Homo sapiens: one gene and its partner. The protein of the gene in region 1 purifies or fractionates together with the protein of each later gene. This does not show direct contact. Each region holds a gene or a part of one and is shown in the gene's direction. Other genes may lie near its edges.

Evidence for each region.
Region 2: the proteins of ZKSCAN8 (region 1) and ADNP purify together in Homo sapiens (affinity purification with mass spectrometry; 2 studies listed by BioGRID and IntAct, with this or other methods). This does not show direct contact.

What each region holds. Positions count from the first base shown.
Region 1 is NC_000006.12:28,138,638-28,155,503, forward strand, and holds the start of ZKSCAN8 (zinc finger protein with KRAB and SCAN domains 8), read left to right. Parts: upstream 1-3,245; 5' UTR 3,246-3,392; intron 3,393-3,573; exon of another isoform or gene 3,574-3,626; intron 3,627-5,693; exon of another isoform or gene 5,694-5,787; intron 5,788-9,678; 5' UTR 9,679-9,770; coding exon 9,771-10,187; exon of another isoform or gene 10,188-10,201; intron 10,202-10,845; coding exon 10,846-10,987; intron 10,988-13,207; coding exon 13,208-13,299; intron 13,300-13,623; coding exon 13,624-13,747; intron 13,748-14,418; coding exon 14,419-15,380; 3' UTR 15,381-16,866. UniProt on the Homo sapiens protein: May be involved in transcriptional regulation.
Region 2 is NC_000020.11:50,887,590-50,904,455, reverse strand, and holds the end of ADNP (activity-dependent neuroprotector homeobox protein), read left to right. Parts: intron 1-454; coding exon of another isoform or gene 455-459; coding exon 460-567; intron 568-2,346; coding exon 2,347-2,439; intron 2,440-9,943; coding exon 9,944-13,051; 3' UTR 13,052-15,538; downstream 15,539-16,866.

The sequences.
Region 1 (16,866 bases):
TACCCCATATTGAAAATTGTGAAACTTTTACCCTACTTGCAAGCTAACAATTTAACTTGCCACAGTTTTATGGATACTAACAGAAGACACTGGACTCCTGCGTCAGAGACAGAAGACTTTATTACTTAATAACACAGGCATCATAAGCTTTATATTCCCTTGTTCCCAAAGCTTATGTTCCCAAAGCCCACAGAGGGGCCTAAGCTTGGCATTCCCCTGCTAGGATGGAACAGTGGGTTTGCAACCTAGCAGAGGAATGCCAAGCTTAGGAAGCCCAACCTTTGCTCAGCCTTGCCCCAGAATGAGCCATTATCTTTATTATCCTGGTCAGGAAACAACTGTGATCTAGAAGGAGATACAAACATCCTTGAAAACCTAACCTCAAAGAAAAATCTACCATAAGACTAGGAGTAATTTGAGAAGCCATTAAAGAATTATCTCCCAACATTCTAGGTAAATACTATTTGAGGGTGGAGATGTCAGCTTTTAAGAATTTTATATAATATTAATCTTTATCATGTTTCATTTATTTTTAAAAATACAAAAAATAAAAGGCAAGCATAGAAGTTTAAATTTTACTTAGAGATAAGGAACCACTCAGGGTCAGTGATTGGAAGAATGATAATGATATTTAAGGACCACGTCTTGTATAGTTAGGAAGGCTATCTCAAGGCTGTTGCAGTCACATAGGTGTGAAGTAATTAGAACTGAGGATGGTGGTTATATTAATGGAGAAAAGTAACACTTCAAAGGAGAAATCTGGCTCTGATAATTTCTCCTTTATCTCCATGTTTCATTGAGTAAACTAAGGAAGCCTCTCAAGCCTGAATAACTTAGAAATTGGCGATATTATCAACCATTCTAACGGATATGTGGTGGTAACTCATTGAGGTTTTAACTTTGCATTTCCCTGATGAATAATGGTTACTTTTTAGTGTGCATACTGGCCATTCTTTTATCTTTTGTAAAGAAAGTGTTTAAATCTTTTGCCTATTGGTGTTGAATTATCTTATTCATTAAATTGTGAGAGTTCTTTATATATTCTGGATAGTTCTTTGTCAGATAGATGTATTACAAATATTTTTCAGTGTGTAGCTTTTTCTTCACTTTCTTAATGGTGCTTTTTTTGAGAAGATTTAAATTTTGATGAGAATTTAAGTTTAAAATTTTGAAGTCAAATTTATCAGTTTTATCTATTACAATCAGTGTCTGTGTGTCCAGTTTGAGAAAACTACCTATGGCATGACGCTATTTTACTTCCTATGTGTACACAACTTTGTACATAGTATGTGCAGTCATAGTTGTGTGCACATTGAATTTGTACAACTACATATGTGCACAACTTCAGACTTAAAAAAAATTTATTTGTTTATTTATGTTGAGACAGGGTCTTGCTCTATTGCCCAGGCTGGAGTGCAATGGCAGGATCTCAGCTCACTGCAGCTTCTGCCTCCCAGGCTCATGCGATTCTCCCGCCTCAGCCTCTGGAGTAGCTGGGACTACAGGAGCCCACTACCATGCCTGGCTAATTTTTGTATTTTTTGCAGAGATGGGTTTTTGCCATGTTGGCCAGGCTGGTCTCAAACTCCTGAGCTCAGGTGATCCTCCCGCGGCTTCACAAAGTGCTGGGATTACAGGCATGAGCCACCGCGCTCAGCCAAAAAAGTTACTTTTAAAATGTGAAAAAAGAAACTGAAAGTAGAGTTCTAGTCTGTCACCAGTTACTTCCAGTTACCATCCCAGGTGGAAAGCAACAGCTGTGAAATAAAAAGCAAAAATAATTACTTTGAAGGAGTCCAGAAGCACTGTAGCTTCCCAGTGTTTACTATTATTTACTTGTTTTCATGTGATAATTAGATGACAAAACCCTTAAATCAAAACGACTTTGTCAGTACGCAAAATATTGGGGAGTTAGTAATTGGGAAGGGATAGAAATGTTGGTGGTGGCTACCAGCAGGAGCAGATAAAGAGGGAAATTAAGGTGAAAATTGGAGGAGCCCTGAGAACTCAATAATAGGTGGTTGGGAAAGGTGCTGAAGGAAATAAATACATGAGACTTAAACAACAAAAAATAACACTTGCCACAACCTCCACCCCTGAAATCCTATTAGTCTCAAAAGTTAAAAAGCTCTAATGCAACAGGTCTGTAAAGAATGAACACAGGGCCAGGGTGGTGTCTCATGCCTGTAATCCGAGGACTTTGGGAGACTGAGGCAGGAGGATCACTTGAGCCCAGGAGTTCAAGACCAGCCTGGGCAACATAGTGAGACCCCCGCCCCGCCCCGCCACCCCGTTTCTACAAATTTTCTTTTTTAAGCTGAGGGTGGTGCACACCTGTAGTCCCAGCTACTTGGGGGGCTAAGGTGGGAAGACTGCTTGAGCCCAGAAGGTTGAGTCTGCCGTGAGCTATGATCACACCACTACACTCTGCAATAGAGACCCTGTCTCAAAAAAAAAAAAAAAAGGCAAAAAAAGAAAAAAAGACTAACAAAGAAAGAATGAACATAGATTTGTTCCCCATATCTTGTGGTATTAAACCTAGGGTCTACTCTTCAAGCTTACATCATAGGTTTAGCATTAAAACAGCTAAGCAGCAAAGCAGATGCTGTAAGCGATAGAAATTCATTAAGATAGGAAAGAGTGGGAAATATGTAAAGATCCAAAAAGAATATATATTTAATTACGATTTTTTTGAATACTTAATAAAATATGCTATTCCTAAGTGCCATGCCATAGGGATTTCACAAAACTATGAACTGTGATTAGCAGGAATTCCTCATGAAGTTTGTACTCTATGTGAGAGGTCTGGATATGTTTATGAATCGAGAACAGTAAAGTACAGGGTATGTAACGGAGCCAAACGCGAATCCAGTTGGAATCCTAAGGATCCATGAAGTGCTCCCTCCTCCAACACTTTCCCAGCCTCCTATTCACAGCTCCAGCCTCCCCACGTCCGATATCTACCCCCAGGGGACCGTTACTATTGACAGCGAGCGCGCGGAGCTGCATGGGCACACAAGGCGGAGGGGACACCAAGGTCCGTTATTCCCCAGCACGTTCACTGCCCCAGCGACAGCGCAAGCCTGAGGCACGCAGACGCGGGAGGAACCCGAGGCACAGCACACAGCAGGTGAGGGGCGTGGTACTCCGGTACCCTCAGTCGGCCGACCATAGAGCTTGTAGACCTCCAGGACTCCTAGAGAGCTTCCGGAAGTGCCTTTGGGGCAAGATGCGTGCTGGCCGGTGTTGTGCCTCCGCAGATTTAGAAGTTAGTGGCCGGAGGGGCCTGGTCCGAGTACAGCTTTCATCGCCTTTACTCCCCGACCTTCCTTCGAGTCTGTTTATCCGTTGCAGCCTCCCTTCCCCACGACGGGGCGCCTCTGCAACTCACAGTGAGTACGGTCGGGCTCTGGGCCGGAGGAAAGTGGGTGCTTTGTGGCTGGTCCAGGCCGCAGCTGAGGACTGGCCTGAGGGGTCCGGAGAGGGGCCTGTGCGGTGTTCGGCGCCGCGGACCGATTCTGACGCCTTAGTTGCTGTTGCAGGCAGAGTACGTCCCCACGAATTGCCCTTGAACTTTTTGCGAGGGAACCTTTTATGAAGCTTTCTTCATAGATAATCGTGTTGTGGTATGTTTTTGTAGTCGATCTTGTTTATCTTAAAATGGGGAACGCCCCCCCCATGTTATTTTTTATCCAACTATTTCCAGAGTCTGAATTGTTTTCACTTAGCGCTCTTTTGCGTTTAGGTCACAACAAAATTCTCAGTTTTTAAAAAAGACATATTTTGCTTTTGGAAGCCCCGTTTATCCATGGAAACCAATTTTTGCTGTTACTCTTCTTTCTTTAGTGTATTCAGAAACTGGTGGTGTGTTGACTAGATAATTGTACGAAAGTTTTTTTTTTTTTTTAATTTCAGGGTAATTCAGAATTCAACATTATCAGAATGCCTATTTCATTTGTTAAAGCAAACTGAAGTTAGCCAACGAGGAACTCTGGGAGGGCCCCATTTCCAAAACTCTGGTTAGTCATGAGTAATTTTTGTCAGGCTACTTTGACTGCCACCACCACCTTTAAAAACATATTTCTGTTGTTTGTTAGTTCCGTTGAGTATATTTACGTAGCAATCATTGTTTTAGCAAATACATACATGTTTTGAATTTCTGTTGTTTAAATGTAAAATGTGATAGATGTTAATTAAAACTTTCAGCTAATGCAATTTGAGATAACAAAGCATAGTATTGGCTTCACCTACTTTTTCTTGGATTTTAAATCCTGGAAAATGTCTTTTTTGTTTTGTTTTCAGTTCCCAAACATTTCTCAAATTAGACATAGTCTGAAGGAAGAATACATTCCTTCCACAACTATTGAAAAAATAATACTGTTAAAATTGAGTTGTGCCTTCAGCATCTCACAGGATTACAGTATTTAAAATCCAGAGGAAGCTTTAAAGATTGCCTTTTAAACTCATGTAAACTTGACTAGGTGTTCTTTAAGGAGACTATGTAAAAATCAGTCTGTATCCACAAAGTGCTCACCAACTTAATACAGACATGTACGCACAAAACTGAGAGGAAGGTACATACTGGAGTAATTTTGCACTCAGTTATTTATAGGTTGTAATTCTCAAAAACCAGCTGATCAGAGAGGGAAGAGACTTAAAAAAATGGAAAATTAGCCACTAAATAGAATAATCAAGATGAGCAATGGGCAAGACCTGTTGGCTGATTTGGTATAAAAAATGAACAAACCTGATAATTAGCTGGTTTTCATCAGTGTTGTTATTGAGACTTTTTAATACCACATCAACAATATAAAGTTCTTGAATGCTGCGCACTTCACATTAAAATATTTTATAGCCTCCTGTACTGGTAAGTAGTGGGATTGCACCTGTGAATAGACTCTGCACTCAAGCCTGAGCAACATAGTGAGACCCTGTCCCTAAATAATAATAATAATATTTTATAGCCATTATGGATGAGGATTGCTCAGTAATAGATGGCCAGTTGTTCAGTAGTTAAAAATGAACCTTGGCTTTAAGGAAATTTATAAGAAAACATGGTAAGACTACCACTATATAACATCACATTCTAAACAGAATTTATGTCCCATGTATTGACCTTTAAGTTTTTAACATTAAACCATAAGTAGCTATTTTAAGAAAATTTAAGAGTTTGTTTTGATTTGAAAAATTAAATTATTTTAAAATTAGCTAAGACCATTTTAAAATAAATTATCTTAAAATTATAGATAATTTATTCAAACAAAAACAAATTGTCAAAACCAAATTGATTACCCTTTCTCAACAAAATCTCAGCATCTTCCTCAAATTCACTCTTCCCCCAAATCTCACTATTCTAGCAAATTCCTCCACTTTCCTGTAAAGTCATAATCAATGAACTATACCCCCAATGTTAATTGATATATTTAACCATATCTTTTGCTCCTTGGTTCTTCTGATCTGTAGTTTACTCTCCACCCTGTTGTTCCCGGCCTTGTCTAACTTGAAAAATAATTTTCAAATTCCCTTTCTTTTCTGTACACACTCTCTATGTAGGATTTGTTTGTATGTTTGTTTGTTTTTAACCTTCCTGGCATTCTTGGATGGCCTTTGAGTCTGTGAACTCTGCCGAAATTGAGTATACAATTTTGTATCTGTGGACATTTTGCTGGAAAGAAGTTCTGTGTTTTCTTTAGGTTGAAGAGTCTATAAACCAACCCCCCTCGCCCCGTGCCACAACTCCAAAAACTGAAAAGATAAGCACTGCCTTGATGATCCGTATGGGGAACTGTATGTACAGTAATCTGATTTTTTTCCTAAGTACCTATCTCTTCTTTGTGGACTATAGGTCTCTGGTTTTATCTTGATGTTAGCATCTCATGACAACTGGTTTAGGGTATGCTACCTTTACTTACACTCTTCTTCATTCTCTACAGTATCTTTGAAATACAAAGATAATGGTCACCTCTGTCAACAAACATTTGCAATAAGGCCATGGCCACATTCTCACAATGTGATAAGTCCTATATTTGGACCATGTTAAAAATGCTTTGGTAGGAATGACAAATGGCAGGGGGATGACAGAGAAGAACTCATGAAAAAGGTAATAGATAAATTAGAGTTAAGAGTTGAATGATTTTAGGCCGGGCACAGTGGCTTACGCCTGTAATCCCAGCACTTTGGGAGGCCGAGGCGGGCAGATCACGAGGTCAGGAGATCGAGACCATCCTGGCTAACACAGTGAAACCCCATCTCTACTAAAAATACAAAAAATTAGCCGGGTGTGGTGGAGGGCGCCTGTAGTCCCAGCTACTCGGGAGGCCGAGGCAGGAGAATGGCGTGAACCCGGGAGGCGGAGGTTGCAGTGAGCCGAGTTCGCGCCACTGCACTCCAGCCTGGGCGACAGAGCAAGACTCCATCTCAAACAAAAAAAAAAAGAGTTGAATGGTTTTAGCTGGACCAAGATTTATCAACCTTGGCATTGACACTTTGGGCCAAATAATTCTTTGTGGTGGGGGCTGTGTTGAGCATTGTAGGATCCCTGGCCTCTATGTACAAGATAATAGTAGCACCCCTTACCCCCAAGTTGTGACAACAAAAATATTTACAGACATTATGAAAGGTCCCTGGGATGGGGGTAAGGACAATATTGCCATCAGTTTTGAACCACTGAGCTAGAGTAAAGAACTCTGTAGTAGAATGGAAGTATGAGAAAGCCACAGCCCAGAAAGGCTTTATGTAAGTGAGTTTAAAGTAGATATAGCCAGCCAGGTTTACATTCATAAAGGGCCTTGCATACCATGCTAAAAAATTTGGTCCCTATTGAAATATTTTCAGGAGGTGAGTCATGTTAGTCATATTACATATTTTTAAAAAATCTCTGGCAGTACAGGGCTACTGTAAAAAAAAAAAGTATCATAAACCTGGTAGTTTAATAGAATAGACACTTACTGTCTCATAATTAGGAAGGCTAGATGTCCAAAATCAGAGTGTCGCCAGACCCATGCTCTTCTAGCTTCTTGTTTTTACTGACAAACTTTGGCATTCCTTGGCTTGCAGCTGCACAACTCCATCTCTGCTTCTGTAGTCACTTAGCTCTCATTCATCTGTGTGTGTGTGTCTTCACATGACCTTCTCCTTTCTCAGAGTCTGTCTCTGTGTCTTTTTTCCTTTTAAAAGTGTGCCAGTCATATTGGTTTAATGGCCTACCCATTCCAGTATAACTTCATCTTAACTTGATTACATCTGCAAAGCCCCATTTCCAAATAAGGTCACATCCACAGGTACTAGAGGTTAGAATGTCCGCATATCTTTTTGAGGGACACATTTCAACACACAGTAGGCAATATTGTGGAACATGAATGGGAAAAAAGCATAACCAAAGTTACCATTGCAGTTCTAGGCAAGAGATGATGTCTATACCAAGGATGGAAACCATAGACATATATTTCACAAAGAAATAGGATCATGAAATTGAACTTTTTTCGGACATCAGGTCTTGTTTCTAAATCTCACTCTTACAAGAAATATAAACATGTTCTGTGTTTGCAATTGTAAATATGGCTAATGTTCTTCGATTCTATCAATAAGATAAAAGATATGGACCTTTGCCCATGGGGAAAATACAATTAAGTTTTGAAGTCAGAATTCCTTTGGAACTAATAAATATACAGTTATGGGAAAAGTAACATTAAAGCAATACACATTTAAGTAACAGAGGTATAGAATGAGAGGAAAATAATTTCCAATTGGAGTCACCAGGAAAGGATTTTTAAAGGCAACAGTATTTTATCTTGTCCTTTAAGAAAGTAGTGTCGGTACTGATGAAAGAAGTCAAAGAAGACTTCAACGGAGAGACACATTGTGTTCACGGAATGGAAAACTCACTGTTGTTGAGATATCAGTTGTCCCTAAAATGAGCTATGGATTCAATACAAATCCAATTCAATAATTTTTTGTAGAAATTAATACACTGATTCTAAAATGTGTATCAAAAGACAACAGAACTAGGAAAGTGAAAATAATTTTGAAAACGAACAACAAAGTTGCAAGACCCACCTACTTGATTTCAAGATTTTAAAAGTTACACAATCAAGACTATTCTGTATTGGTGAAAGAATAGATGTATAGGTCAATAAACAGAACAGAGATTCCAGAAATAGACCCTTACATATACATACATATAGTGAACTGATATTTGACAAATATACAAAGACAGTTAAGTAGATAAAGGAGAATCCTTAAAATGAACCTCCATCCATACCTCAAATTCTATATAAAAATTAACTCAAAATGGATCATAGGCCTAAATGTAAAACCTAAAACTATAAAACTTTTAGTAAAAAACAGGAGAAAATATTTGTAACCTTGGATTAAGCAAAGATTTCTTAGATATGACATCAAAAGCACAGTCAATTAAAAAAATGAACTTTTTTTCTTCAAAAGGCCCTATGAAAAGGATGAAAAAGAGGGAATACTTGCAAATTACATATCTCATAAAGGACTTGTGTCCAGAGGATGTAAGAAACTCAAAACTTAATTTTAAAATAACTAAATTTAAAAATGGGCAGAAGTTTTGAACAAATACTTCACTAAAGAAGATATATAGATGTTAAATAAGCACATAAAAAGATGCTCAACATTATTAGTCAGTAGAGAAATGCATACTAAAGCCATATGAGATATTAAAACCATAATGAGTTGCCACTACACATACACCTATTAGAATATCTAAAATTAAAAACAAAAACAATATCAAGTGCTAGTCAGATTGGAAAACAGTTTTGCAGTTTCTTATAAAGTTATACATATATGTATTTTATGACACAGCAATTTTACCTCTGAATATTTGCCCAAATAAAATGAAAACTATATTCACACCAAAACTCATGCAGATGTTCATAGTGGCTTTATTCATAGTGATTAAAAAACAAAAACAACTCAGATATTGTTCAACTGGGAAATGGATAAACATTTAAACATTCCCACTCCAGAATCTCACATAAATAAAATCATATAGTATGTAGCCTTTTGAGTGTGGGAGTAGACTTTTGGGTTGTAGTTGTCAATAGGGCATCCAGGTTCCTTGGAGTGCTCCATAGAGAGTTTCTGAGTTGGAGGTCACGTCCATAGTAGAGGAAGTTAACCTTGAGATAGGAGGAAAGATGAGGGGCACAGGTAGGATAAGGAATGTTAGGTGGAGAAGAGCAAAGTGTTAGGAAAGTTTTTGACAATACCTTGAATTAGATTATGTAGAAATTAGTCTCATCTGTTAAGAGTAAGGGAAAGGTTGAGAGCTGAAGCGTGTAGAACCAGATTAGTACAGCTGGTGTATCAAAGACTAAAAGGGGTTAAATGAGCAGCCCTGAAGGCCAGCTGAGATTAAACACAAAATTTCAACTAGACCCAGTCTACATGGTTTCCTGACTTTGCTTAGCCATGTTCCACATCCCCAAACAGGGTGATGAAAGCAGAAGGAAGGGGTTTTTCTATGGATGGGTTTGGCATGGCTGGCATGACAGAAAGTTAAGGAAGTAAGAAGTTATTTCTGGAACAGTGGGGAGGATCATTTAATTGGCCGAGCCATGAAGTCCGTGTCATACTAAGGAACTTGTTAAGATACCATAGTTAGTTACAATGACTTTTGACTTGCCTTAACACTATCATATTTTCTTCATGAAGAAGTACCCTTAGAAAGAGGCCCTCAGAAGAGTCTTCTCTTAAGAAGATAAAGAAGGTAGTGGAAACGAACTTCCTGAGCTTTTCAGGCTCTAATGGCTGAAGAATCAAGAAAGCCTTCAGCCCCATCCCCACCAGACCAGACTCCTGAAGAGGATCTTGTAATCGTCAAGGTAGAGGAGGATCATGGTTGGGACCAGGAATCTAGTCTGCATGAAAGTAACCCTCTTGGCCAAGAAGTGTTCCGCCTGCGCTTCAGGCAGTTACGCTACCAGGAGACACTAGGACCCCGAGAAGCTCTGATCCAACTACGGGCCCTTTGCCATCAGTGGCTGAGGCCAGATTTGAACACCAAGGAACAGATCCTGGAGCTGCTGGTGCTGGAGCAGTTCTTGACCATCCTACCTGAGGAGCTCCAGACACTGGTTAAGGAACATCAGCTAGAGAACGGAGAGGAGGTGGTGACCCTATTAGAGGATTTGGAAAGGCAGATTGATATACTAGGACGACCAGTAAGTAGAAGGAGGTATGCGTGCTATGACTGTGGGAGTCCTGGAAGCTTGGTAGAGGGACATAGGCATCACAGTGGGAGAGCAGATGCTTAGCATCAGTTTCTGTTGGATAAGGATGACAATAGTTTTAGTGTAGTATGACTTGTAGAGTTCTTTTTACTTTTGTAAAGGATATAAATCCATTTTGTTTTTGTCGTCATAACATCCCTACGACTGTATTGTTCTTGTTTGCCAGATGGGAACTTGATGCATAGGAAGCTTAAGTTAATTTTTCAGGGGTATCCAAATAATTAAAGGTAAATTTGAGACCAGAAATCAGGCTTTCTAGTTCCTTATTAAAAGATTTTTCTACTGCATAGCACTGCTTTAAGTTTGTTGTTTTCCTCCTTCCTCTGCCTTAGGAGTACAAAATATTGGTGTTCTGTGTAACAGGGAAGGCATCAGCAGAAATCTTTTCCTTTAGTACTAAGCAAAAATGATGCCTTTCTTTCTGTGCTCATTACGTATTCGTGTTCCTTACTGTCCCTAAGAAGTGAGGAAGATTCTGCTGCTTCCTTCCCCAAGCATATATCCCTGTAGATGTGTTCGTGGTCCTCTTTCATTGTTCATTACATTTCGCAAAGGGATTCCTTATTATCCAACTGTCTGTTGTTTCCAGGTCTCAGCTCGCGTACATGGACATAGGGTACTCTGGGAGGAGGTAGTACATTCAGCATCTGCACCAGAGCCTCCAAATACTCAGCTCCAATCTGAGGCAACCCAACATAAATCTCCAGTGCCCCAAGAGTCACAAGAGAGAGGTGAGTAGCCAGATTTCATTGATGATAAGGGGGGGAAGTACAAATAAAAGTCCATTTGGGATACCTATCTAGTTCCTGAAGAACCAGGAACTAAAATCCTGTTTACAGACCAGTCCCAAAGTCTGTGTTTAAATGTTTAGGCTTCAAATATAGATTATTCTTTCTAGTGGTAAACTCATGAACAAATTAAATAATTTGACTTTTTTTTTTTTAATTTTTTTTCCTTTTATTATTATACTTTAAGTTTTAGGGTACATGTGCACATTGTGCAGGTTAGTTACATATGTATACATGTGCCATATTTCTGTTACCACAGTACATTTACAACATACATTTTTGAGGTTATGCTGGTATTGTCATGCCACTTTATTTGGAAATATTTCAGTATGTATTTCCTCAGACGAGCATTTCTTAGGTAACTTAAATAAATAAATTCCTAAATTTATCACAATTAAGAAATGTAGTATTGCTACAATACTAACCTAGGCCATAGTTCATATTTTGACAGTTGCCCCAATTATGTTCTTTCTGGTTCAGAGTCTAGTCTGGCGTCACACTTTGTGGTTAGTTGTCATGGCTGTTTAGTCTCCTTTACTTTGGAATAGTTCCTCAACCTTTCTTTTTTTTTGAAGAGTACAGGTGTGTTATTTTGTAGAATGGCTGCAGTTTGGATTTGCGTGATGTTTGATCATGTTTACATTGAGGTCATATATATTTGGCAGGAACACCTCACCCTGCCAAGGATACATGACCTAAATCTTAACAAGAGATGTTGTACTCCTTCTTAGGGGTACAACAGGAATTTGTCCTATTATTGGTGGTGTTATCTTTGATGACTTGGTTAAGGTTATTCTTGCAGGGTTAATCATTGTATAGTTACTATTTTTCCCTTTGTAACTAATAAGTAATTTGTGGAAGATACTCTTGAGTGTATTTAAATATCTTAGTCCTCATTAAACTTTGTTGCTAAAACACTAGTTTTAGTGTTCATTGGTACTTCTTGACTGACTTAGTGATTACTAGAATGGTTATGAAATAGTGATTTTCTAACTCTGTCATTCCTTCTACATTTCTTTATTGTAAAGGAGAGTGCTCCCTTCTCCCAATTTTATTATTTTTTATTTATCAGTATGGACTCAAATTCGTATTTATTCCATAAATATTCTGTTACTGTCTTTATTTTGTTTTTGTTTTGTCTTTGAGACAGAGTCTCACTCTGTCATCCAGGCTGGAGTACAGTGGCACGATCTCAGCTCACTGCAGCTTCTGCCTCCCGGGTTCCAGCGATTCTTAATCCTCAGCTTCCCCAGTAGCTGGGATTACAGGTGCACGCCACCATGCCTGGCTAATTTTTGTATTTTTGTAGAGACGAGGTTTCACTGTGTTGGCCAGGCTGGTCTCGAACTCCTAGCCTCAAGCGATCTGCCCACTTCAGCCTCCCAAAGTGCTGGGATTACAGCCATGAGCCACTGTGCTCGGCCACTGTCTTTATTTTGCTAAATCATCTCAGATTTGGCCATAGAAGGCCCCTTCAGTCTGGCTCTTGTATCCTCTTGACATTTTCCCATTGTTTTTTTGAGAATTTTTTTACTTTATTGCAGAATGAGGTGTTCCAGTCTCATCTTCCCCTGCATTTCATATTTTTTCATTAATGTGATTTAGAGTAGTTTATAAATATGAATTTTTAATATTTCTAAAGAAGCATTAAAACACTTAATACTTCTTGTCTAAAGTCCTAAAGCTTGTTACCTGAGATACAGTAATCTATATTTTAATAATAAGCCGTTTAATATCTATAGAAAGCAAATACTGGGAGCCATAGTAGACATTTCAGAAAGGTAATTAATTAATAGAGACTGGTTGATTCTGATACTTGGTTTGCCAAGAGATTAGGACCTAAGGAAATACTGTATACAGCCACAAAGACAGAAGTAGTTTTGATGGTAGAGAAGAAATTGAAAAGCGATTCCTGTTAGGAAACCAGTATACTTTCTATTTTTGAGTGTAACTTCAGTCTGACTTCAGGGACATCGGGGTGCGTATGTTTTGTGGGGCAGCCATAGATATGGCCCCAGAATCCAAGATATCAGCACTTCATGTGCAAAATCTTTGGCATACATGTATATCTGCTGAAATAAAAATAATTTGGAATGGGTGAGTGCCAGCTCCCACAACCACAGGACAGGACTGGTCTCATTCATAGCTCCTTTCTCCTCTCAGCCATGTCTACTTCCCAGAGTCCTACTCGTTCCCAGAAAGGAAGTTCTGGAGACCAGGAAATGACAGCTACACTTCTCACAGCAGGGTTCCAGGTGAGTTGTGCTCCTTCTCACTGAAACGCCATAGCTGTGCTTGTCAGTGTTTGTGGCATCTGCCCTATATCTTGACTGTCTAGTTTGTAGCAGTACCTACCCAAAAAGTTGTCCCAAAAATTCTTTTGCCTAGGGACAGATTGATCCTGAATTTCCCCCAGTAAATCTCATGCATTTTCCTCTTCTTCCTAGCTATTCAGATCCCTTTACATAGTACATTCCCAAGTTGTAATTCTCTCCCAATACTGGTGGATCTCTCAAGCTCTATAGGTTTGAGCTGTGGAACAGTCCCAGTCCCCAAATGGGGATCTTGTTTTGTTTCAGACTTTGGAGAAGATTGAAGACATGGCTGTGTCCCTTATTCGAGAGGAGTGGCTTCTTGATCCATCACAGAAGGATCTGTGTAGAGATAACAGGCCAGAAAATTTCAGAAACATGTTCTCCCTGGGTAAGGAGAGGTGTGGTTATTATTGTCATTTTAGATTTTTTGTTTGTTTGTTGTTTATGTGTATAGTAGCTACAGCCTTTCTGAAAGACATAGTTAAGTTTAACTCAGGATCCAGCAGAGGGATATGATGTTGAGATTTCTTGAAATCTTACGTGAAACTTTTGTTCTCCTGTCCAGAACTTCCTTACATTTTGTACCAGGGTACTGGCGTTTTTGCCAGTTGGAAATTGACATCTCAGAGGTGCTCTCTGAGTTCATATATTTCTTCTCCAAGTTGTCATGGGATTCCTACATATATTTTTCTCACATAAATTAATTGTATCTCCTCCCTTTTGATGACTGGGCATTTTCCCATTTCTGTCCTGCTCATTAGTTCTTTTAGTAGTTCCATATTCCTCTCCCCAACTTTCACCTCACTTCAGTTCATCCTTTCCTGACTTTAGTTCCCCTTCCAATTAACTCTCTTTTTTTAATGGTACCTCTTTCCCAGTTGACTAGCTCATATTAAGCAAGGTCACTATTAAGAAGCTATTTTGGAGACAGAAGTTTTGTGTTTACTTATAGCTGTTCATGTGTACTTTCCTTTTCCCCTATCTTCAGTTCCTTTCTCCTAGCATAAAGAATAGGTTGTGACATTGGCTTGATGTTTGTTTATTACATTTTTATTTCAGGTGGTGAGACCAGGAGTGAGAACAGGGAATTAGCTTCAAAACAGGTAATATCTACTGGAATCCAGCCACATGGAGAGACAGCTGCCAAATGCAACGGGGATGTTATCAGGGGTCTTGAGCATGAAGAAGCCCGAGACCTTCTGGGCAGATTAGAGAGGCAGCGGGGAAATCCCACACAAGAGAGACGACATAAATGTGATGAATGTGGGAAAAGCTTTGCTCAGAGCTCAGGCCTTGTTCGCCACTGGAGAATCCACACTGGGGAGAAACCCTATCAGTGTAATGTGTGTGGTAAAGCCTTCAGTTACAGGTCAGCCCTTCTTTCACATCAGGATATCCACAACAAAGTAAAACGCTATCACTGTAAGGAGTGTGGCAAAGCCTTCAGTCAGAACACAGGCCTGATTCTGCACCAGAGAATCCACACTGGGGAGAAGCCATATCAGTGCAATCAGTGTGGGAAGGCTTTCAGTCAGAGTGCGGGCCTTATTCTGCACCAGAGAATCCACAGTGGAGAGAGACCCTATGAATGTAATGAGTGTGGGAAAGCTTTCAGTCATAGCTCACACCTCATTGGACATCAGAGAATCCACACTGGGGAGAAGCCCTATGAGTGTGATGAGTGTGGGAAAACCTTCAGGCGGAGCTCACATCTTATTGGTCATCAGAGGAGCCACACTGGGGAGAAACCCTACAAATGCAATGAGTGTGGGAGGGCCTTCAGTCAGAAGTCAGGCCTTATTGAACATCAGAGAATCCACACTGGAGAAAGACCCTATAAATGTAAAGAATGTGGGAAAGCTTTCAATGGGAACACTGGTCTCATTCAACACCTGAGAATTCACACAGGGGAGAAGCCCTACCAATGTAATGAGTGTGGGAAAGCCTTTATTCAGAGGTCAAGTCTCATTCGACATCAGAGAATCCACAGTGGTGAAAAATCTGAATCCATAAGCGTTTAGGAACAACATCAGTTAGAGTTTGAGCATTATTCAGCATTAGGGAAACCACACACTGGTGAGAGGTCTTTCAGTGTACTAAAAGGCAGAAAGGTCATCACAACTTTAGTGTCAGAATCTATAGTGGTGGCAAAGTTAGGATAGCTCTTTAGTAATTTGGGCCCAGTGCCTTGGTGAAGGTTGATTAGCTTGACTGTCTTTGAAAGTATCTGATGGAGCTCCTGATGACCTAATGTATCCTTTAGAAATTTAAAATAGCATTAGAGCAAGTTGCTTGTCATGGCTTGAAGAGCTTAACTTTGTCTTTTGGGTGAGTAGCTATAGGTTTGAGAGAGGCTGGCTACTCCTAGTTCCTGTGCTTCTTCCCATCTCCTGTGATCCCCCTCTCCCATTTATTCCCTTGAAGGTGCCCTTGTATTCCTAATCTGATCTAAGAAGCTGCTGTAGAGTCAGAAGTAGCTTCTGTGTGAAACTTATATTTGTATGTAGCTTTCTAGGAAAATTTTACAGACACTTAAAGTATTTATGCTTAAGTGTGCATTTTTTTATTCTAATATTCCTTCTAGTCAGTGGAAATTTGTATTCCCATACAAACTCAGAATGCTATATTTTTAACAGCACTCCAGCATTTTTCTTCATGTATCACCTTCACTGACTCCATTGAGTCATTGAGCATCTGTACATATCCTTCACCACCCCCAGTCCCAGCACCTGTGTCAGTAAAGAAAGTGGACACATTAGTAATGGTTATGGGAGTAATACAGAGAAAGAGGTGAGTGGAGACTCAGCCCAGCTGCTCTTGAGCTTGGATAGTTATACATTTTGGTGACTTCTGACTCTCCTTCCACCTCCCCACTGTACACTGTGGTACAGATAGTTGGCACTATCCTAGTTATGGCATCAGGTAGGAGAAGGAGACGAAGATGCTTTAGGAAGATAAAAACCTTACAAAGAATGTATACTCATCTTTTTTGGCCCATTACAATACTGCTTTCTCAGGTTCTTAACAGCCTGTGCAAACTCCCTGACTAGATGGTCTGTCACTCCTATCATTACCTTGCACCCATCTCTTTAGATGGCCTCAGCACCTCACTCGTTATTCTCCATCTGTTTCTTGCCATTAGTTTATATGACTTTAATATCCACAGTGGTAATCTAATACCTTACCTCACAGGTTTTCATTCTTTTGAACTCTGGTGCACTCCATCTGTAATCCATGTCTATAATCTACCAACAAAGATGTACTCTTAAACTCAGTATCACCAGGCACTATATTTCATCTTTGAGGCTTTTGTTATACCAAGGAATACTATATAAAGTAATGAGACTGGTTTAAAGTAACATGCCAGAACTTACGCATCCAATGTGGGTTGTCACTTGTTATTCCCAAGTACTATTATTCCATACTACTATATTCTTCCAAATATTTGGAACACTCTTAGAATTCCCATTTAATAAACCATATGAGAAAACCCTCTATTACTCTTAC
Region 2 (16,866 bases), on another chromosome or scaffold:
GCTTGAGTCCAGGAGTTTGTGAGCAGCCTTGGCAACATAGTGAGACCTAGTCTCTACAAAAAAATTTTAAAAATTAGTTGGGCATAGTGGCGCACTCCTGGAGTCCCTTCCTCTTGAGAAGCTGAGGTGAGAGGATCACTTGAGCCCAGAAGGTTGAGGCTATGGTGAATCGTGAGTGCACTGCAGTCAATGAACCATGAGTGCACTGCACTCCAGCCTGCGCGACAGAGTAAGACTCTGTCTTAAGAAAAGGAAGGAAGGATGGATGGATGGATATATCAAGCCATATGCACATGAAAGCAGGTGTGTGTCTGTGTGTGTACACACTAGATGAGGATATCTATGCACCTTTTTTGTCAGATGGGTAGGTTTTATGATCCTATCATCAGTGGAATTAGTAAATATTACAAGTTGTACGTGTTTTGACTTTGACTTAAATTTTTTTTTCCAATAGAAACTATGTTCCAACTTCCTGTCAACAATCTTGGCAGTTTAAGAAAAGCCCGGAAAACTGTGAAAAAAATACTTAGTGACATTGGGTTGGAATACTGTAAAGAACATATAGAAGTAAGTAGCATGTCATTTTTAAATTTTAACATGACTCAGCTTCTGATCCATTACTTTGTGTCAGTGGCCAAGATGGCTAAATCTTAGATGTGATTCTGAATTTCAGCCACAGCAGTAGCTTCACGAAAACATTCTCAATAGCATTAACTTGTGCCTTTCTCCCTAAAATGGGCTTTTTCATTTTTGCATCCTGAAGCAGAAGGCTACCATTGAGGACTTAAGCATGTCAGGCGTTGAACTAGGTGCCGTAAAGTTGTCTATACATTTAATCCTTAGAACAACCATGGAGGCGGGAGGCAGTGTAGCAGTTCTTATCTCCACTTCACAGATGAAGAACAAATAAATAGGCCCAGCCTTGCAGCTGAGAAAGTGGCAGTGTCTGTGGGACTCAAAGCCTGTTCTCATTCTGATACGCCTGAATGTTCTGGTTGACCTTCTTCTAATTGTTGAGGCGTGCTTGTGTGGGTGCTTGTTGTCTCTTTCCTTAGGATTTGAGCATTTGTTGCCCCTTTTGACCCATCATAGACTATTACTTTCCCCCTTGTATAACAGTTTGGGCTTTATGAACTGTTTTTCAAGCTGTTTTATTCTATGAGCTTTATAACAGCTCTGTGGGATAGCCATGCAGTGGTCTCCTTTTCAACATCTCACTGTTCCAGGTCTTATGGTTTGTTGGTCAGAGCCCCTGATTGAAAAGAAATGTTTGAAGCTGTTTCCCCCACTAACCTTTAAGTTCTAGGTGGCTAGGGAACATAGCTACCTTGTTTATCCATTTAGCCCCAGCACCTAGCACAGTGTTTTGCACGTAATAGGTGATCAGTAAGTGTTTGAATGGAATTGGAAGTAAAAAAGCAAATTCATTCATACAACAGGTTTTCTTAATTTGAGTTCCACTAATAATACTTGAAGAGTATGGCATGGAAACAGAAGCTGCTCAAAAGTTGACTTCTCTAGTCACGTTGTTCCAAGTGTGGAAGTAGCCCTTCTCCAACCCCAGAGTTCAGGTAGATCTGCCCAAATGAAACAGTCCATTCACTTTGCACTCTGTGGGGTCATCTTCATAGAAATAATTAATACCAACATCACAGTACATTTCTGTCATGCATTTGATTTGTTCCTCCTATGATTATTTATGTGTAGACTTCATTTTCCACCTTGAACTGTGAACTTTTTAGGAACAAGTGGGATTTTACCCTAAGACTTTTAATCTTCCTAGTCTGGAGGGAAGTGGACCATTAAATTTTTACATGAGAGTATAAATTTAACATCATACTGCTTAACTTTCTTTGAATAGCTTTCTTTCTGCCTTTTTGGGTTTGAAATTTGAGTTTTCTTCCTGATCTGATCTCCTGCCCCCTCCCCTCGAAAAAAATCTTTTTTTTGCACAGAACCAGAAATCATATTTGCAGTGCTGTAAGCAAACATTGCTATTTTAGACACCATTCCAGTACTGTAACTGACGAGTTAGAGTACAGTACTCTAATGAAAAGTGCTTTGATATTAGTGTGTGGCTGAATTTTTTACTTAATTAGAACTTCCAGCAATTTCCTTGGAAACCTGACTGACCATCAGGAAAGTGGTTGGTTGATATAAAATGTAGACTGCAACTTCCATATGCCTTTTTATATTTAAGAGCCTTATCACTCCTAGTTTAAGTCCTTGTTGACGTTGGTTTTCCTGTGCCTCTCCCCATCTTAGTTAAGAGGTGAGATTTACATGTAAGATTGGGTTAGCGTTTATACCACTATGTTTTTGTAAACTTATTTCACTGTTTTCTAGGATTTTAAACAATTTGAACCTAATGACTTTTATTTGAAAAACACTACATGGGAGGATGTAGGACTGTGGGACCCATCACTTACGAAAAACCAGGTAAGTGGCACAGGAGACTTCCTCAGATGGCAGCATGCTTGGTATACTCCCTTTTCAGCTCTAGGCCTTTTATAGCGGTGCAGTGATTGCGGGCAAGTGCCAAACATCGAAAGTGTCAAAATTGCATTTCATATTTTCCTGACCAGTGGGAAGACTAAGAAAAACTTTTTGTCCTTTTTTGTCATTGGACTAAAACTTGAGGTGTAAGAAGAAACAAAATTTTGTTACTTAAAAGTTACGAAGCCTGCTGTATCCCACCATTTCCCCTAAAAGTGCTCTGGCTCTATTTTTCTGCATCTGTGTTGCCATTCTTGTTTTTTCTGCACAGAAAAAGACAAGACCCTTCCTTACATTTAAGCTTTTCTTATTTCCCTATGTTGATGGCACCCAACTTCTATGGGAGGCCTGGGGAAGTGACTCTGTAGGATGTCAGTGACAGAGAGATAAAACTTCTTACAAATTGGCATTAAAAACAATATTAGCACTGCCAGCAAGTATCAATAGATGATGATGATGTCATATAGGTGATATTTCCTTCTGCATAGAGAGAGGTAATTGTCAATTTAATTTTTACCATTACCTATTTTAGGAGTGATTCTCATTCTGCATTAATGATCTGTTCATCTATCGGAACATACTTTTCAGGAAATTAGTACTCAGATATTTGACTTTTTTTTTTTTTTTTTTTTTTTTTTAAATACCCCAGGCAAAGTTACTAACCAGCAGTCTTAGAATGAGAATGCTTTCCAGTGGGACACATCATTTATTTAATTCAGTTTTATCAATCTGAAAGCCTCATAGCTGAATACTAAAGAAGAGTTGAGCTTTGAGGAGAAGCAGAGTATTTCATCATGGTTCAAACCAGTATCTGAAACAAGTAGGTTTCTAGGGAGAAAAGATAATCTCTTACCAAGCATGTCAGTTCACCTGCCTTCATCAAAGGACTGACTGCATAGGTGTTAACAATCATAATTCTGAAAGTTGCTCTTTGATATCAGTATATTCTATAATGTATTATTGGCTTTTAAATACCTCACCCTCCTCACAGTCTGTAGGACATTTTTATTTAACTTCTTGATTTGAATCAAAGCAGCTATTACTTCATTAGCTCTTTTGAAGTGTTCTTGGTTGAGAAGGAACAGCAAGGCTTATAGAAGAAAGCCAACTTTTCAAATCAGTCTTTCTTTTGATCAGCGCTGAATCTGATACTACACTGTACTTTAATCAGAGGAAAAAATGGAGATTTGCCTTTTTTCTATGAAAATTTATCCATAATGAGGAAAGGAATAAAAGATATAGCTTTATCTCTTGTAATTGTCTAATTGCACTAAAACATCGTGGGCCCTGAATTTTACCGCAGTCATTCACCACATAACGACATTTTGGTCAGTGATGAACTACATCTACGACAGTGGTCCCATAAGAATATAATTGAGCTGAAAAACTTGCTACCTTATGACATCATAGCGCAACATATGATTCATGTTTGTAGTGATACTAATGTAAACACACCTGTGCTGCCAGTCATAGAAGTATAGCACATACAGTTATTTACAGCGTATAATACCGTCGTGCATTGCTTAATGATGGGATGCATTCTGAGAAATGCCCTGTTAGGTGATGTCATTGTTGTACAAACATCATAAAGGGTACTTACACAGACCTAGGTGGTATAGCCTCCTATTACCCCTACGCTATATGGTATGGCCTGTTGCTCCTAGGCTACAAACTTGTATGGCATGTTACTATAAGAGAATACTATATACTGAATACTATAAGAGTGATTAACACAATGGTAAGTATTTGTGTTTCTAAACATAGTGAAGCATAGAAAAGGTACAGTAAAAATGCAATATAAAAGAAAAATTGGTACACCTATATTGGGCACTTGCGGGACTGGAAGTTGCTCTGAGTGGTGACTGAATATGAAGGGACATTATTGTACATCACTGTAGACTTTATAAACACACTTAGGCTACATAAAAAGTAAAACTTTAAAATTCTTAACTTCTGAATCTTTTGTAATAACACTTAGCTTAAAACACAAACACGGCAACCTGCCCGGGTCCCCTTCCACACTGCGGAAGCTTTGTCCTTTCACTCTTCATAATGAATCTTGCTACCGCTCCAAAAAAAAAAAAAAAAAAAATTGTACAGCTGTATAAAAATATTTTGTCTTCATATGCTTACAGGCTTTTTCCTAGTCTTAAACTTTTTTTTTTTTTTTAACTTTTTAAACTGTTGTTAAAAACTAAGACACAGACATAATTAGCCTAGGCCTACACAGGGTCAAGATCAATGGTATTACCATTGCCACCTTCACAGCTTGTCTCACTGGAAGGTTTTCAGGAGCAGTAACACGCATGGAGCCATCATTTCCTGTGATGGCAGTGTCGTCTTCTAGATACCTCCTGAAGGATCTGGCTGAGGCTGTTTTAGAGTTAACTTTTTTTTAAAAAATATAGAAGTAAGTGGTACACTCAAATAATGATTAAAAACTCATTACCGGCCGGGCGCTGGGCTCATGCCTATAATCCCAGCACTTTGGGAGGCCGAGGCAGGTGGATCGCCTGAGGTCAGGAGTTCGAGACCAGCCTGGCCAACATGGTGAAACCCCCTCTCTACTAAAAATACGAAAATTCGCCAGGTGTGGTGGCAGATGCCTGTAATCCCAGCTACTGGAGGTTGGAAGTGGGAGCGGGGAAGGCAGGAGAATCGCTTGAACCTGGGAGGTGGAGGTTGCAGTGAGCTGAGATCGTGCCATCGCACTCCAGCCTGGGGGACAAAAGCAAGACTTCATCTCAAAAAAAAAAAAAAAACCTCATTACCAAAATCCTTGCATACTTAAGTCCCACAGTTGGCCCTGGAGAACCTGCATATACCAAAAGCTAGCCCTCTGTATAAGAGGGTTTGAGCATCCCAAGAATACTGTATCTTTGATCTACATTTGTTTGGAAAAAATCCACATATAAGCAGTTCAAACCTATGTTGTTGAAGAGTCAACTGTATAGTAAATACTAGGTGACAGAAATTTTTCAGCCCCGTTATAATCTTGGGGGAACATAGTCCCATATGCAGTCTGTACTAGACAGAAAACATCAGCACATGACTTCCTGATAATGACAGTTAAAAACCGTATTGCCAGTTTATGTATTTACTATATATACTTTTTATTTTAGAGTGTACTCCTACTTTTTAAAACAGCTTTTCATGGTAACTGGTAGCAGCCTCATACAGCTTGTGTTCACTGTGTCTCTTGATTGCATCATTCTTGTGCATGGTTTAATCTCATGGTATTTTGTTCATCATGGCCCCTAAGCATACAAAATCCATAATGTTGCCAGTAAGGGGCCATGTTGAGTGATTGACCTGGAAACAGAAGTGATTAAGGACTACGAAGGTGGAGAATCAGTGATGGTTATTTCTTGCCAGTCAGGCTTGTCCCATTTTACCATAGCTATGATCTTGAAGAACAAGAACAAAGTGACAGAAGCTGTTAAAGCATCTGCTTCATTGAAGGCAATGAGACTAACAAAAATTCAAGAAGGGCCTTTATCAGACACACACAAGCTTCTGATGACCTGGATTGAAGAGCAGACACAGGTGCACACGGTGCTGTGTACCTCTCAGCACCATGATGATCCCAAAGCAAAAAGTGTGTTTGAGGTGTTGAAAGAAAAGGCTGGACCTGGCTGTGATGTTGAATTGACTGCTAGTTCTGGGTGGTGTAAACAATTCAAGAATCGTTATTCATTACATAATGGGAAAGTGGTGAGTTTGTGAGTGCTGATGTAAAGGCAGCGGAAGAATTTTGGGAAACTCTAGATAAGCTGAGTCTGGAGGAAAATCACTTGCCAGAACAAATTTTCAATATGGATGAAACCTTTCTATTCTGGAAACAGATGCCTGAAAGGACTTTGATCCATGAGGTAGACCAAAGCAATGCCAGGCTTCAAGTCTTTTAAGGACTGGATGACAGTCTTGCTTGGGGGCAATGTTGCAGGCCACAAATTGAAACCCTTTGTGATTTGGCATGTTGAGAACCCTAGGGGCTTCAAGCATATCAATACACACACACTTGGCCAGTGCACTGCAGGAGATATAAGAAGTCGTGGGTGACCCTGCTCCTCTTTCAAGATGCCCTCCTGAATAGATATGCCTGCGAAGTGGAGAAGTAGTATTGAGAGAATAACATACCCTTCAAGCTTTTGCTTATTGTCGCTGATAAGCAAATGCCTCCTTTAAGTGGTGTTTTTCATCCCAGTATCAAACACCACCTCTTTGATCCAACTGATGGAGTTACAGCAGCTTTTAAGGCGTACTATCTGAGAAAGGCCTTTGTCCTGTCGTCGCAGCTTAGGGAGACACTGAGAAGATTCTGATACAATTCTGGAAGGATTGCAATATCTGTGACTGCATTAAGAATCTTGCTTGGGCTTGGGTTGATGTCATCAAGGAGTGTATGAATGGCATCTGGAAGAATACACTCAAGAGGTTTGTCCATGACTTAAAAGGATTTGCATAAATCACAAAGTCTGTGATTGAGATGGCAAACAACTTTAACCGGGGTGTGGATGAGGACAACAGGAGCTCCTAGAGGTGATTCCTGAGGAATTGACTGGTGAGGAGCTGTGGGAACTAGAACAAGTTCCCGCATAGGTGAAGAGGAAAGAGAAAAGGAAACTGCAGGAAAAGCAAAAGAAGAACCCTCAAGAAAATTCAGTGAAGGATTTAGCAGTGCAGACCTCAGCAAGCTCCTTAAGTCTGAAAACACGTGGCCGGGCTTGGTGGCTCACGCCTGTAATCCCAGCATTTTGGGAGGCCGAGGCTGGTGGATCATCTGAGGTCAGGAGTTCAAGACCAGCCTGGCCGACATGGTGAAACCCCGTCTCTACTAAAAATACAAAAAAATTAGCCGGGCGTGGTGGTGGGGCGCCTGTAATCCCAGCCACGAGGCTGAGGCAGGAGAATCGCTTGAACCCGGGAAGTGCAGGTTGCAGTGAGCCGAGATTGTGCCATTGCACTCCAGCTTGGGTGACAAGAGCAAAAAAACTGCATCTCAAACAACAACAAAAAAGTTTGAAAACATGGATCTCAATACCAAAAGGTTTTTATTAATAGAGAAGAATATTCATGGTTCATTATCTGCTTACAATCAAATCTATGATGAAAAAAGGAAACAAAGCACCGTGGGCTTATTCTTGGTAAGTGTGAGACCTCCTCAAGAAAAGCCTAAGGCAGGTCCTTCTGCAGTTATCCAGAAGAAGGCATTGTTACCATGGGAGATGGCAGTTCCATGTGTGTTACTGTTCCTGAAGACCCTCCAGTGGGACAAGATGTAAAGGTGGAAGATAGTGATACTGTTGATTCTGACTCTCTGTAGGCCTAGACTAACGTATGCGTTTGTGTCTTAGCTTTTAAGAAAAAAAATGTTTTTAAAGTTTTTGGTTTTTTTTTGAGACGGGGTCTTGCTCTTGTCGCCCAGGCTGGAGTGCAATGGCACGATCTCAGCTCACTGCAACCTCAGTCTCCTGAGTAGCTGGAATTAGAGGCGCCTGCCACCACGTCCGGTTAATTTTTTGTATTTTTAGTAGAGATGAGGTTTCACCATGTTGGCCAGGCTGGTGTCGAACTCCTGTCCTTGTGATCCACCTGCCTTGGCCTCCCAAAGTGCTGGGAAAGTTTTTTTTTAAAACAAATTTTTTTAAGCTTATAGAATAGGCATATGAAGATAGAAAATATTTTTGTACGGCTGTACAATGTGTTTGTTTTGGGGGTTTTTGTTTGTTTCTGAGACGGAGTCTCGCTGTGTTGCCCAGGCTAGAGTGCTGTGCTGTGATCTTGGCTCACTGCAACCTCTGCCTCCTGGATTCAAGTGATTCTCCTGCCTCAGCCTCCCGAGTAGCTGGGATTACAGGTGCCTGCCACCATGTGCAGCTATTTTTTTTATTTTCAGTAAAGGTAGGGTTTCACCATGTTGGTCAGGCTGGTCTCAAGCTCTTGACCTCAGGTGATCCACCCGCCTGGGCCTCCCAAAGTGCTGAGATTACAGGTGTGAGCCACTGTGCCTGGCCAATCTGTTTGTGTTTTAAGCTAAGTATTACTACAAAAGAGTCAAAAAGTTAAAAATTTAAAAGTGTATAAACCACAGCAAGCTGAGGTTATTATTGAAGAAAAAATATTTTTTAGGGCTCGGCACAGCGGCTTGCAATCCCAGCACTTTGGGAAGCCAAAGCGGGAGGATTGCTCGAGCCCAGGAGTTCAAGGCCAGCCTGGGCAACAGAGGGAGACCCTGTCTCTACAAAATTTACCCTAGTGTGGTGGCACACACCTGTAGTCCCCAGGACTGAGGCGGAGGTGGGAGGATCGCATGAGCCCAAGAGGTTGAGGCTGCAGTGAGCCGATTGTGCCACTGCACTCCAGCCTGAGCAACAAAGTGAGACTTTGTCTCAAAATTTTTTTTTTAGTAAAACTTGTGTAGCCTAAGTGTTCATAAAGTCTACAGTAGTGTACAGTAATGTCCCAGGCTTTCATATTGACTCACCCAGAGTAACTTCTAGTCCTGTAAGCTTTGTTCATGGTATCATTTATCTTTTACATTGTATTTTTACTGTACCTTTTCTGTGCTCAGCTATGTTTAAACATACAAATATTTACCATTGTGTTAATCATTGCCTATGGTAATCAGTACAGAAACATGCTGTACAGGTTTGTAGCCTAAGAGCAATAAGCTATGCCATGTAGCCTAGGCGTGTAGTAGGTTCTACCATCTAGGTCTGTGTGAATACACACTTGAGGATTTCACACCATGATACATTTTTCAGAATGCATCCCTGTGGTTTAGCAACACATGACTGTATAGTAAACCTGAAGTCTTTAGTAACTTCCTTCATTTAGGTTATTCTTGTTATTTCTAGCTGCAAAATGTTTATCTTCAAGTCATTTGTCTTTGGTTTAGCTAAAATGTGACTTTTTTTCCCTAAACATTGAGAAAGAACTTAGCATTTTTTTAATTTACACTGACAAAAATATTTGGTTTAAGATAGCTTTTTTTTTGAGTTTCTATTTTATAAAGTTACTATACAAAAGGGGAAAACATACTAAAATCAGTGCTTTTTTTTGAGACAGTTTCGCTCTTGTCGCCCAGGCTGGAGTGCAATGGCCGATCTCGGCTCGTTGCAACCTCCACCTCCCAGCTTCAGGCGATTCTCCTGCCTCACCCTCCTGAAGTAGCTGGGATTACAGGCGCCCACCACCACGCTCAGCTTATTTTTTTGTATTTTTAGTTGAGATGGGGTTTCACCATGTTGGCCAGGCTGCTCTTGAACTCCTGACCTTGGGTGATCCACCCACCTCAGCCTCCCAAAGTGCTGGGATTACAGGCGTGAGCCACCACGCGCGGCCTAAAATCAATGCATTATTAAGAATATCCGGGGGGGATCTGGAATCTGTTAACTGCCTATCTGAAGTGGCATTCTAATTCTAGTTTTTGTGTTTACTTTAGGACTATCGGACAAAACCTTTCTGCTGCAGCGCTTGTCCATTTTCCTCAAAATTCTTCTCTGCCTACAAAAGTCATTTCCGCAATGTCCATAGTGAAGACTTTGAAAATAGGATTCTCCTTAATTGCCCCTACTGTACCTTCAATGCAGACAAAAAGACTTTGGAAACACACATTAAAATATTTCATGCTCCGAACGCCAGCGCACCAAGTAGCAGCCTCAGCACTTTCAAAGATAAAAACAAAAATGATGGCCTTAAACCTAAGCAGGCTGACAGTGTAGAGCAAGCTGTTTATTACTGTAAGAAGTGCACTTACCGAGATCCTCTTTATGAAATAGTTAGGAAGCACATTTACAGGGAACATTTTCAGCATGTGGCAGCACCTTACATAGCAAAGGCAGGAGAAAAATCACTCAATGGGGCAGTCCCCTTAGGCTCGAATGCCCGAGAAGAGAGTAGTATTCACTGCAAGCGATGCCTTTTCATGCCAAAGTCCTATGAAGCTTTGGTACAGCATGTCATCGAAGACCATGAACGTATAGGCTATCAGGTCACTGCCATGATTGGGCACACAAATGTAGTGGTTCCCCGATCCAAACCCTTGATGCTAATTGCTCCCAAACCTCAAGACAAGAAGAGCATGGGACTCCCACCAAGGATCGGTTCCCTTGCTTCTGGAAATGTCCGGTCTTTACCATCACAGCAGATGGTGAATCGACTCTCAATACCAAAGCCTAACTTAAATTCTACAGGAGTCAACATGATGTCCAGTGTTCATCTGCAGCAGAACAACTATGGAGTCAAATCTGTAGGCCAGGGTTACAGTGTTGGTCAGTCAATGAGACTGGGTCTAGGTGGCAACGCACCAGTTTCCATTCCTCAACAATCTCAGTCTGTAAAGCAGTTACTTCCAAGTGGAAACGGAAGGTCTTATGGGCTTGGGTCAGAGCAGAGGTCCCAGGCACCAGCAAGATACTCCCTGCAGTCTGCTAATGCCTCTTCTCTCTCATCGGGCCAGTTAAAGTCTCCTTCCCTCTCTCAGTCACAGGCATCCAGAGTGTTAGGTCAGTCCAGTTCCAAACCTGCTGCAGCTGCCACAGGCCCTCCCCCAGGTAACACTTCCTCAACTCAAAAGTGGAAAATATGTACAATCTGTAATGAGCTTTTTCCTGAAAATGTCTATAGTGTGCACTTCGAAAAAGAACATAAAGCTGAGAAAGTCCCAGCAGTAGCCAACTACATTATGAAAATACACAATTTTACTAGCAAATGCCTCTACTGTAATCGCTATTTACCCACAGATACTCTGCTCAACCATATGTTAATTCATGGTCTGTCTTGTCCATATTGCCGTTCAACTTTCAATGATGTGGAAAAGATGGCCGCACACATGCGGATGGTTCACATTGATGAAGAGATGGGACCTAAAACAGATTCTACTTTGAGTTTTGATTTGACATTGCAGCAGGGTAGTCACACTAACATCCATCTCCTGGTAACTACATACAATCTGAGGGATGCCCCAGCTGAATCTGTTGCTTACCATGCCCAAAATAATCCTCCAGTTCCTCCAAAGCCACAGCCAAAGGTTCAGGAAAAGGCAGATATCCCTGTAAAAAGTTCACCTCAAGCTGCAGTGCCCTATAAAAAAGATGTTGGGAAAACCCTTTGTCCTCTTTGCTTTTCAATCCTAAAAGGACCCATATCTGATGCACTTGCACATCACTTACGAGAGAGGCACCAAGTTATTCAGACGGTTCATCCAGTTGAGAAAAAGCTCACCTACAAATGTATCCATTGCCTTGGTGTGTATACCAGCAACATGACCGCCTCAACTATCACTCTGCATCTAGTTCACTGCAGGGGCGTTGGAAAGACCCAAAATGGCCAGGATAAGACAAATGCACCCTCTCGGCTTAATCAGTCTCCAAGTCTGGCACCTGTGAAGCGCACTTACGAGCAAATGGAATTTCCCTTACTGAAAAAACGAAAGTTAGATGATGATAGTGATTCACCCAGCTTCTTTGAAGAGAAGCCTGAAGAGCCTGTTGTTTTAGCTTTAGACCCCAAGGGTCATGAAGATGATTCCTATGAAGCCAGGAAAAGCTTTCTAACAAAGTATTTCAACAAACAGCCCTATCCCACCAGGAGAGAAATTGAGAAGCTAGCAGCCAGTTTATGGTTATGGAAGAGTGACATCGCTTCCCATTTTAGTAACAAAAGGAAGAAGTGTGTCCGTGATTGTGAAAAGTACAAGCCTGGCGTGTTGCTGGGGTTTAACATGAAAGAATTAAATAAAGTCAAGCATGAGATGGATTTTGATGCTGAGTGGCTATTTGAAAATCATGATGAGAAGGATTCCAGAGTCAATGCTAGTAAGACTGCTGACAAAAAGCTCAACCTTGGGAAGGAAGATGACAGTTCCTCAGACAGTTTTGAAAATTTGGAAGAAGAATCCAATGAAAGTGGTAGCCCTTTTGACCCTGTTTTTGAAGTTGAACCTAAAATCTCTAACGATAACCCAGAGGAACATGTACTGAAGGTAATTCCTGAGGATGCTTCAGAATCTGAGGAGAAGCTAGACCAAAAAGAGGATGGTTCAAAATACGAAACTATTCATTTGACTGAGGAACCAACCAAACTAATGCACAATGCATCTGATAGTGAGGTTGACCAAGACGATGTTGTTGAGTGGAAAGACGGTGCTTCTCCATCTGAGAGTGGGCCTGGATCCCAACAAGTGTCAGACTTTGAGGACAATACCTGCGAAATGAAACCAGGAACCTGGTCTGACGAGTCTTCCCAAAGCGAAGATGCAAGGAGCAGTAAGCCAGCTGCCAAAAAAAAGGCTACCATGCAAGGTGACAGAGAGCAGTTGAAATGGAAGAATAGTTCCTATGGAAAAGTTGAAGGGTTTTGGTCTAAGGACCAGTCACAGTGGAAGAATGCATCTGAGAATGATGAGCGCTTATCTAACCCCCAGATTGAGTGGCAGAATAGCACAATTGACAGTGAGGATGGGGAACAGTTTGACAACATGACTGATGGAGTAGCTGAGCCCATGCATGGCAGCTTAGCCGGAGTTAAACTGAGCAGCCAACAGGCCTAAGTGCCAGGTTCCCTGGCGTTGGTGACATGCTGCAGCCTGGAACTCTGATATCCAGTGTGACTGCAAAGCTGTCTTCTCACTGGTACTGCCTTGTGAGTACTGGTTGGACTGTGGGGCATGTGGCCGCTGCAGTTCCAGTGGTTATTTCTAAGTCTATGACAGGACAGGCTGTTCTTGCTTCAGAACCTTCTCTGACAGACACGGTAACTAAATGTGAAAAACCAATAAGCTGGTGACTCATGAATACACACGAGGAAAAGCAGAGGTTTATTTTATCTGCCTTTTCAACATTTCTTTCCCTCTGTGAAATGATTGGTCAGATGTCTTTGAGAAGTGTTAAACTAATTCACATGGTAGTGTAGGGCCAACATACAAGCTACCAGTCTAATGTGTATAGTAGACTTTGGGAAAAGCGATTTTTTTTCATGTATTCATTCTGAATAGTTGAAATGTATATTTGTACAGTCTTTTAGACCTATTCAAGTGATGCTCATGATCCTGTTACTGTGTGCCCATCATAGATTTCTTTTTTTAGTGTTGCCCTTGCTGTGTAATAAACGCTCTATCTAGTTTACCTAGCAAAAGCTCAAAACTGCGCTAGTATGGACTTTTTGGACAGACTTAGTTTTTGCACATAACCTTGTACAATCTTGCAACAGAGGCCAGCCACGTAAGATATATATCTGGACTCTCTTGTATTATAGGATTTTTCTTGTTCTGAATATCCTTGACATTACAGCTGTCAAAAACAAAAACTGGTATTTCAGATCTGTTTTCTGAAATCTTTTAAGCTAAAATCACATGCAAGAATTGACTTTGCAGCTACTAATTTTGACACCTTTTAGATCTGTATAAAAGTGTGTTGTGTTGAAGCAGCAAACCAATGAGTGCTGCATTTTGGATATTTAGTTTTATCTTTAGTTCAACACCATCATGGTGGATTCATTTATACCATCTAATATATGACACACTGTTGTAGTATGTATAATTTTGTGATCTTTATTTTCCCTTTGTATTCATTTTAAGCATCTAAATAAATTGCTGTATTGTGCTTAATGTAAATATTTGCTTTATTACACATGACAGTCCTGTGTGTCCATTATATCTTTTGCCATTTAATGCCATAACTCTTTCATCAGAGATGGCAGCCACAGTCACAGAGGAAACTTGTGGAAAACCCAAGATCTGTCATCTGCAAATAGAATGCTTTCTCTTGAGGCACCTGGTACAAAATCTGTTTTTCTTTTTTTTTTTTTTTTTTTTTTTTTTTTTTAACTGAAAAACAAACACCCTTGAGTTTTTCAGTTCACCTTTTGTTAAGGAGCAGAGCCTGCATATATATGTAAATGTCTCAATGATAAAAAAAAAAATGTAAACATGGATTGGCATTAATTTGCAAGCAGAATCTTAATAGCCTGATGGGTTTTTTGTTTGTTTTTTCTTCTAGATGAAGTTAAACGTTCGTTTTCACCTTACGATGGGAACAACTGTAGTGCAGGCGGCTCTGCCTCTATTTGCCACTCTTGGCCCTCTTGCTATTAAGGGAAAGGCTTTGAAGAGCACAGCACTGACAGGGCTGTAAAGATGGAAGGAGCTGGTATTTTTACCATGCGTAGATTCCCAAGAGAACTTGTACTAAAAAGCAGAAAGTTACAAGGAAGCAGAATTAGGCCAACATTTCCAGCAATTAAAACAATGATGGGAAACTCCAATCCATGAGGAGGCTGGTCAGTCACCTCAAGGATAGTGGCCTAAAGAAGTCTGAAGTGGCTGATGTCCATAACTTCTGAGTCTGTTTCCAAAAGAAAGACTCTTGTTAATGCTGTTACCAGAGAGTAGAGATTTGACCAGCCTCTCCCTAAAATGTAAGCTTCTCAACAACAGTACAGGAAGAAGTGCAAGAGTAGACTAGAACCTTTAAGGAATTTGGGGCTGGAACGGAGCTATGTTGCATCTGTTGTTATACAGGTAGATTATAAGTTCTACATGCACCAGCCAAAACTTAGGACAGGATGTCCCCAAATTAAGATACTACAGATTACCAAATCAGAAATAACCAGCTGGATTTAGGCCAGCTCACATTTATTTGGAAATTACCCTCCCTGATTAACAGGCTTCTGAGTTGTACGTGGAGGACTAATGAGACTTGTACAAGACACCACGGGGCTTGGGGTCCAGGTCCCAGTTGGATATCGGAACAGACACAGATAAGTGTGTTTCCTCATTAAGGTGGTGAGAGTGTGCCTTTTGGCATTCAGAAAAGGGTTTAGCCACCCTAAGAGTTGGAAATAAAGATTCCCAACTGGAAATGTTGCAGAATCCCTACAAGTGTCTCAATAAAAGCCATTTTAAAAGAATATTGTTGCTACTGTTTGCTTTTCAAATAATCTGGAGATCGTTGGCTATGGCAACGTGCTGCCACCTAATTAGAGAATGCCTGTAAATGTAGGCTGAACACTTCTAACATGAGAAAACCTAAGTATCCTACAGAGGTTTGGTGTGTTTTGTTTTTGTGGGTGTCGGGGGAAGGGGGTGGGGAGGCGTGTTTTTGGCCCTGCAGGTTTTCTCGTGGGAATGAGTTCACTCAGACAAGCTAGGACTGTGGCTTCTTTCCCTGTTCATCACATAGAGCATTTTCTCATCCTATCTTTGGTTCCTTGTCATTGTATAGGGAGAGGAGAATCTTTATCAAACAGCTTCATTCCCTCTTGCAATTCAAGCAGAAAGGGTATCTATGCCTCATATCGCTCTAGAGTTGTATGTCAGTTTGATCCCAATGCCTACTCCTTTGTAACATCCATTTCTGGCATGAACAAAATGAGTGCCAAATTTGAAAACTGCGATGTATTAAAGATGGGAGTTTCCCATCTGAGATGCTTCACGCTAGAAACAAACCTGCTTATTGCCAAATAAGTACTACCATACAGAAGTGTAGTTCCTTTACTACTTAGACCTCAGACTACTAGTACTGAGTCCTCGAGATGAGACTCAAGAATTATCACTAGGTGGTTCGTTTTTTTGTTTGTTTGTTTTTGAGATGGAGTCTTGCTCTGCTGCCCAGGCTGGAGTGCAGTGGCGCCATCTCAGCTCACTGCAACCTCCGCCTCCTGGGTTCAAGCCATTCTCCTGCCTCACCTTCCCAAGTACTGCCGGGACTACAGGCACGTGCCCCCATGCCTGGATAATTTTTTTTTTTTTTTTTTTTGTATTTTTAGTAGAGACAGGGTTTCACCGTGTTAGCCGGAATGGTCTCCATCTCCTGACCTTGTGATCGACCCGCCTCAGCCTTTCAAAGTGCCGGGATTACAGGCGTGAACCACCACGCCCATCCATCTCTACATGGTTCTATGCCACTAACATTTGAGAACCATTTAGCTTGATGGAAATTTTCTTTCCCTAATGAAATTAAGTAGAACATGTTGAACACGTGGATTTTGCAGAGTATCAGGCAGCGTTTTGTTTTGTTTTTCTGCCTGTTGTGACCCTTCCAGCCCCCCTGCTGAGCAATAATTAGGTGCCAGTTGAGGCATGTTTCACCAAAATGTCATGGAGGAACATCTCAAAAGCTTCCAGAAGACTAGAAATGAAGAGGCTGCTCCCACCATTAGGAAATGGCATTCCAACATACCAATTATCAGTGGGTCACCATGAGGTAATCTAGAAGAAAAACATCTTAGCTGATACAAACTTGACAGGTTTGAAAATAAAAGGCATTTCTCCCATCTGCTGCAAAGTTGGCTTGAAAGCTTGACCAAAGCAAGGTCCCCATTTGCTAATTCTTTGCATCCTGCTTCCCACCAACTTGTACCACTTCG